2 linked regions of the Homo sapiens genome follow. The protein of the gene in region 2 interacts with the protein of the main gene of each other region in a pairwise test. Each region holds a gene or a part of one and is shown on either strand. Other genes may lie near its edges.

Region 1 (3,500 bases), on a different chromosome or scaffold from region 2:
TGAGGGTTCTTCCTTGGGTCCTTCCTGGCAACTCGCTATGACTATTCTAGATAAACGATCATAATAAATTAAATGCATGGACTTTGGAAGCAGGAAGAGCTGAGTTTAAAACTCAGCTTGGCTACCGCACGAACTTGAATGAGTTATCCTGCAACTTACTCAGATTCTCATCAGTAAAACAGGGATTATACTTGAAAGTTATAAGGAACAGGACTTAGCCCAGATGTCCCCTCCTCTGAGAGGTCTCCCCTGACCATCTACATCTCTGTTGTCCCAACTCCTGCTCTCATAATTTTGCTTTTATAAAGCTATTGCCATCATGAAGCTTTTTTTCTATACTGAAATTATCTTTTCCTTTATAAATTTCTTTGTATATTCTCTAGCTTCCCCCAATTGGAGGGCAAGATCCCCAGGGATCATCCCCATCCTATTCACCTCCAGGTCCAGGTAGTAGAACAGCATCTGACACATAGTAGGAACTCAAGAAATAACTGCCGTGTAAACGAATAAATGTAAACATATAAAGCACGTGGTATGTAAAAAGCACTTGTTTAGTGGCAGATATCATTGTTACCATTGTTACCGTTGTTGGTGGTGCTATAAATTCTATTTCTTGGGAAAGAAACTCTTTTTTGAGCGGGTGCTGGACTCCAAACAGCCCAGAATGAGTCTGCCTCAGGAGAAGAGGCTAAAACACTGCTTAGCCATTGTGTTTCCAGGCTTACAAATCAAAATCCATCCATATCTGGTTTCTTTCAAGCCCTGGACCCCTTGTTCTGTGATAACTGGTAAGTTGCTTGTTTCCCAGTTAATATAAATTTTCCATAGTCTGGTTATTCAGGGTAAAGACACACTATTCCCTCGTATCCCTGTGGTGCCTAACAGTTTCAGCACACTTTCTCAGCCCTCCTCTGACACAATCCTTTCCACACACCTGGAACATATGATTGCCCCCATTTTATAGATTAGAAAGTGGAGGGCAGAGATTTGAGCAGCCTGCCCAAGTTTACGCGGCCGAATAAGAATTAGACCTAGAGACTTGAACTTCAATCAGTCTGACTCCAAAAACTCACATTCTTACCCGGAGAGTAAGGTTTATCTCTAGAGCTTGCCCGGGGCTAAATAACTAGCGTGGGGCAAGGCTGCAACCAGAACCCAAGTCACTTGCCCTTACTCCGCTGTTCCATCCACAGTCTCAAATCTAATCCCAAGGGGGAAAACAAGAAGAAGCACTCAGCAGTGTACCCAACTTTCTAATAAAGGAAAATAGCCAAAGGCAATTCTGATATAAAACGCATTTATGGCTTTTCATTTTGGCATTTCTTCTGTACCAAATGGCACCGTGCACATAGAATAGATTTGACTCTTCTCTACAGCATCATCTTGGCCCAGAAGCTATTCATATCTCTCTGGGGTATAAAAGAGAGGCTCCTAAATACATAAAAAAAATTCCAAGGATCTGATAAATTGAAGTGATTTAAAGTAAGCCCTGTGCAGTTTATATAGAGATATTTATATGCCACTGCTCTCACTTACACAAGCCATTTTTCCCCTATAGAAGACCTTGACCCTCTGTCTCATTTTTGTATCTCCCATGTCACAAGGTTTCATGGGTTTTTCATGATCCAGTAAAGCATTACGGAAGTTTCTTTCAAATTCATTACAAATAGAATGGCTGCTGCCAACTCTGTTTTTATCTCATTCTGCCCTTCGTAACTATTTTCATTAAAAGCAATAACTGTATTCTACCCACCTTAATATCTAAACTATATAATTTCCATAGAAATGGCTTAGATGTGGCTTTAAGAAGAAAGCTCAGGGGTGATTTTAGAGTATTCCTTCAGTTCTGAAAGCACTCAAGTAATTAAGACCAGTGATCTTAATTTTTATACTAACAGAAACTGCAGAATGCTGGCCTTTTTTTTTTTTTCTTCAAACCCACCTTAGTGTCTAGCAGTGTTGTGGAAACATGAGGCCTTTCCTTAATCATAAATGGACACTACAGCTTTTCAATTAAATTAGTCTTTGGAGAGAGATGCAAAAGAGCTAAAAAGCTCCTTAAAAAAATCTTCCCTGCTTCACCGCTTCTCATTTGCCAAGAAGAGATGTTTAGCTAAAACGCAATGCTGTTGTCTTCTTATCCTGCCGCAACAAAGTTCTCTTGATCTTGAACCCTGAGCTAGCTATCTTACGAAGATCCTTGAGGTTTTTCTTTTGGTTTGCATGCCCACATTTGGTTTTCTGAAACAATTTTTTAAAAAGTGTTGTGTAATATAGTGTCTTACATCTGTGTGTCCAGAGAGAGTTTCATTAGTCCCTGCTTCAGGCTGGGGTAGCAGGTAGGAGGATATTGAAATTGTTTTTTAAATGACACAGGTAGAAAGAGAGCTCTCATTTAGATGAGCAGAATTCAAGACAAATGCTTTCAAATATGATCCAGGTATTTCTTCCCCCCATGTAATTTCTCTAAGCTCATTATCTCTAAAACTTTTGCATTGTGCGTTTTCCTGTTGTTATGCATAGCTAAATAATACTGATATATTAATAATCGGATTATCTTGCTGTGCCTCCTGAATTTTAATTTCTAAAATTGTAAATAATTTTAGCATGACTTTAGCATCCCAGAATATTTGAGGGTGCCCAGAGGATGTCTTTTTCTACAGGGGAAACGTAAAAAATTGAGGGAGGCAACAACTGAAAATTCCAAATGGCCATTTTAATGACTTTCAAATGCCTCCAAATTATTGAATCATTTCATTCATGGAGTTTGCTTTGGAAACAAATATATCAGCAATTCCCACTCGCATCTCAGATTTCTCTTCTGTGTCTCTGTGTATGTATATAATGTCTTTGAACGGACCTCAGTCTGATACCCTTGGACAAAATAATTTCTCGGACAAAATGAGCAATATGGATACGGCCACACTGCTGGAGACGCTCCCCATTCATGTGCAAGTTAAAGTTGAAACTATGTGTTTGCAGAGGTGCTTTCTCATTAGTTTGCAGACCTAGACTAGCAGTGAACCGTTGGGCTCTGAAGTCTCTAATTTTTATTACAATGTCTTAAAATCTGATGTATCTTGAAATCCACTTTAAATGCTATCTCTAAACGTTCTTCTCAGAAAAAGTTCCCAAAACAAGTGAATGAAAGGTCAGTAGGAGGAAAAAAAAAAGAAATTATAAATCCAGTGAAAATAGTGTTACATGTTAGAGGCATGTAAATAGATGGTGTTTTTTTCTTACTGTAATATTCAGGTAAGCAAGCAAGTACTCTCCACTTTCTTATGTGGTTAGAATGACTAACTTCCTCCTATAATCGAAGAGCTGCTTGCCAAAGATCACCCTAAGGAATGTGAGAATTTCTAACTTTAAATAGAACTTGTAAAACTTAAAAAAAAAATTAAAAATACCAATTGTTACAAATTACTGAAAAATGAATGTAAAAACCTATTCTGGGGTAAGCAGACTCTATAAAGATAGAAGGATAAGCTCTCCCTGAT
Region 2 (3,500 bases):
TGCTGGGATTACAAGCGTGAGCCACCGCGCCCGGCCAATTTTTGTATTTTTAGTAGAGATGGGGTTTCATCATGTTGGCCTGGCTAGTTTCTTTCTTTTCTTTTCTTTTCTTTTTTTGAGACAGAGTCTCCCTCTGTCACCAGGCTGGAGGCGTGATCTCGGCTCACTGCAACCTCCACCTCCCAGGTTCAAGCGATTTTCCTGCCTCAGCCTCTCGTGTAGCTGGGACTACAGGTGCATGCCACCATGCCCAGCTAATTTTTTGAATTTTTAGTAGAGACAGGGTTTCACCATGTTGGCCAGGATGGTCTCAATCTCTTGACCTTGTGATCTGCCCGCCTCGGCCTCCCAAAGTGCTGGGATTACAGGCGTGAGCCACCGCACCTGGCCAACACACTTTTACTTATTCATTTAAACATGTTTACAGGCATCTTCTTGGTGCCAGGCCCTGTACCAGGCTCTGGGCACACAGCAGTGACCACGAAGCTAGCAATCCAGTGTTTGGGCGTGGCTTCAGCTTCCTTCCAAGCTAAGGAAGGGGTTAGGGCTTTTGCCATGGGGGATTGGGCAGCCACTGAAGGCTCCCCAATGGGCAAAGTGAGCAAAGTGGTCAGGTCTGCGTGTGAAAAGGCGCGAGGAAGGGTGTTTGGGCCAATGGGCCCCAGTGCTAGGGGACCTGTGAGATTGCAACACAGGTAGGAACTGAGTCATCCTGCACAGGCAGTTTCCAGTCCCATTTCTGTACAGACAAGGACCCTGAAATTCAGGGAGGAAGAGTAATTTGCTCAGAGACCCATTATGAGGATGGGGGGTGGGGAGAACACTGCTGGGTAGACATGGGGTCAGGCGTTGTGCAAGACAGGCCCAGGGTAAGGGGGTTCTGGCGAATGTGAGAGGGAAGGTGAGAGACCATCTCTGGGGTCCACTCTGTGGGGTGTGGCTGAGATGCTGTCTAGCCGGGCGACCTGCCTACTTTCCAGCTGTGTGGCTTGGGGCAAGTTACTTAACCTCTCTGAGTCTCAGTTTTCTCACTTGTAAAACTGGAATAAAAATTGTACCTGCCTTGGCTGGGCACAGTGGCTCACACCTGTAATCCCAGCACTTCGGGAGGCTGAGGTGGGCGGATGACCGGAGGTCAGGAGTTCGAGACCAGCCTGGCCAACATGGCAAAACCCCAACTCTACTAAAAACACAAAATTAGTCGGGTGTGGTGGCACGCACCTGTAATCCCAGCTACTCGGGAGGCTGAGGTAGGAGAATTGCTTGAACCCAGGAGGCAGAGGTTGCAGTGAGCCAAGATCGCGCCACTGCAGTCCAGTCTGGGTGACAGAGCAAGACTCCGTCTCAAAAAAAAAAAAAAAAAAAAAAAAATTGTACCTGCCTCACAGGATCCTGTAAGATAATGAGCGTAGGGAGCTTGGGGCAATGCCTGGCACCTAGAATGGACCTGTTCCATGGGAGGGAATGGCAGCAGGTAGGCAGTGAAGGTGAGGGTAGGGCTGGCGGGCTGGAAGAGCCGGCTCCAAGGACTGAGAGGGTGGGGGAAGCTAGGGACAAAGGGGGAATTTTGTGAGATTTCCTGGTTGGAGCAGGAGAAGGTGGCTGGCCAGGGGGAGGTCAGGGAACCAGGGGGTCTCAGGTTGTCCACTGGGTGGGGAAGCCTCCCAGGCTTGGGGGAGGGGGTTCTAGGAGGGCTGTGGCCAGGGCCCGGAGGAGGGCAGGGCAGGGGCTGGGCGGGAGGTTCTATTCACCGTGCCTCCTACCCCAGTACTTGCGCTAGTGGCTGTCAGCCAGCCAGGCAGCAGTGCCTCATCGGACTTGTAGTTTTTCAGGGAGAGGTGGTGGCCAAGAGTGTCAGGAGGTGCAGTGCCCCTTGGGCAAGGCCTAGGTGCAGTTATTAAGCCAGGAAGGTAGTTTTCAGCAGCAAGGCTTGTAGGCTTGGTTTCCAAGGCAGGATTTGGCTGGCAGCTGGTCATGGGCAGCTGTCCCCGAAGCTTCATCCTGCCAGGCCCCCCATGTGGCAGAATGGTTTGGTCTCCCTCCCTCTGGGGCACACAGGCCAGAATGGGCCTCCCGTCTCCTTCCAAAGTGGTGCAGCCCAACCGCCAAAGGCCACAGGTCACCTAGCTGGCAGCATCCTGGCGCCCCCTGCCCCCCCAGCCCCCACTGTCAGCTCCTGACTTCCTGTCCCTCCAGCCCTCCGTGGCCTTTTCCCTGTAGCCAAGGTCTCTCACCCGACCCACCTCTGCTGAGCCTCTCTAGCTGTCTCGCTGTCACATGGCTGGGGTGGCAGCCCACCGGGCGCATCCACCTTTCACTGCGCACATGAAGAACCGTGGGCTCAGAGAGGTGACGGCACTTGCCCAACATGTGTCACCTACCGACTCCCAGCCCAGGGGCCTTCCTCATGCCCTGCCAGGCTTACAACACCCAGCTCTTTCATGCCCAATTTCAAGGGCCCCAGGCTTTGCTCCCATTTTATAGATGGGGAAGTAGAGCCCAAAGGCTTAATGATACGTGCCCAGGATGGCAGGTCAAGGACAGAAAGGCAGCTCTCTTGACTCTCAGGCCTCTGTCTCCGGCTGTCTCCTGCCCCCTTGCCCTGAGCCTGCTCTGCTTGCCCTCAGGAGCTGGAGAAAGCTGTGGTGCGGGGCAAGGAGTTGGGGGACCGGCTGGAGCATTTGCAGCGTGAGCTGGAGCAGGCGGCTCTCGAGCGCCAGGAATTTCTGCGAGAAAAGGAAAGCCAGCACCAGAGGTGGGGACAGGGCTGAGGGGAAGAATGAGGGAGGCAGGGGTGTGGTGGGGCGAGGGTGGGGTGGGGCTGGGTGCTAAGGATTCTCCTGGCAGGTACCAGGGCTTGGAGCAGCGGCTGGAAGCTGAGCTGCAGGCGGCGGCGACCAGCAAGGAGGAGGCGCTGATGGAGCTCAAGACCAGGGCCCTGCAGCTGGAAGAGGAGCTGTTCCAGGTGATGCCTGCCCGCCTGGGAGCTGGGGGCCATGCCACCCTGCCCTCCATCCCATGAGCAGATGCCAGGGTCATCTGTCCTCCTAGTCTTGCCTCTGGATTCTTGGCTAGCTACTTGCCTCACTCCCCATGTGGGGCCTGTTGGAGAGAGCACTGTGCTGGGAGTCAGGTGGCCGTGTTGACTTATCTGGGGTCTCATTTTCCCCATTCTGCACATGGACAGAACTTCTGCTGTGGATGACTGCTCCGCCTGTCTCACCCGAGGTCCTCCACTGCCTAGGGAGCTCAGTGTTTGGCATCAAGGAAGCCAGCGATGGTTTCTGATACCCAGGCTGTGTGCGGGCTCCACACGGAGGGTGGGGTGGTGGTGGGGCCCAATCCCAGGCTGCCATCCTCAGGGAGCTCACAGGACAGTCAGGATAGAGGCAAGAAAACAGGTGACAATAACTAGGTGCCAGGGGCTGTGAGGAGGCCATGCAGGGGCTTGGGAGGGTGGTACCCAGCAAGATACCCAGCAGGTGCATGCGAGTCTATCA

Evidence for each region. The genes of interacting proteins can lie anywhere in the genome.
Region 1: the proteins of CCDC88B (region 2) and TSHZ2 interact in binary tests that used the Homo sapiens proteins (3 or more experiments, as listed by UniProt).

The regions. Positions count from the first base shown.
Region 1 is NC_000020.11:52,978,858-52,982,357, reverse strand, and holds part of TSHZ2 (teashirt homolog 2), read right to left. Parts: intron 1-3,500. UniProt on the Homo sapiens protein: Probable transcriptional regulator involved in developmental processes. May act as a transcriptional repressor.
Region 2 is NC_000011.10:64,346,704-64,350,203, forward strand, and holds part of CCDC88B (coiled-coil domain-containing protein 88B), read left to right. Parts: intron 1-2,627; coding exon 2,628-2,755; intron 2,756-2,847; coding exon 2,848-2,965; intron 2,966-3,500. UniProt on the Homo sapiens protein: Acts as a positive regulator of T-cell maturation and inflammatory function.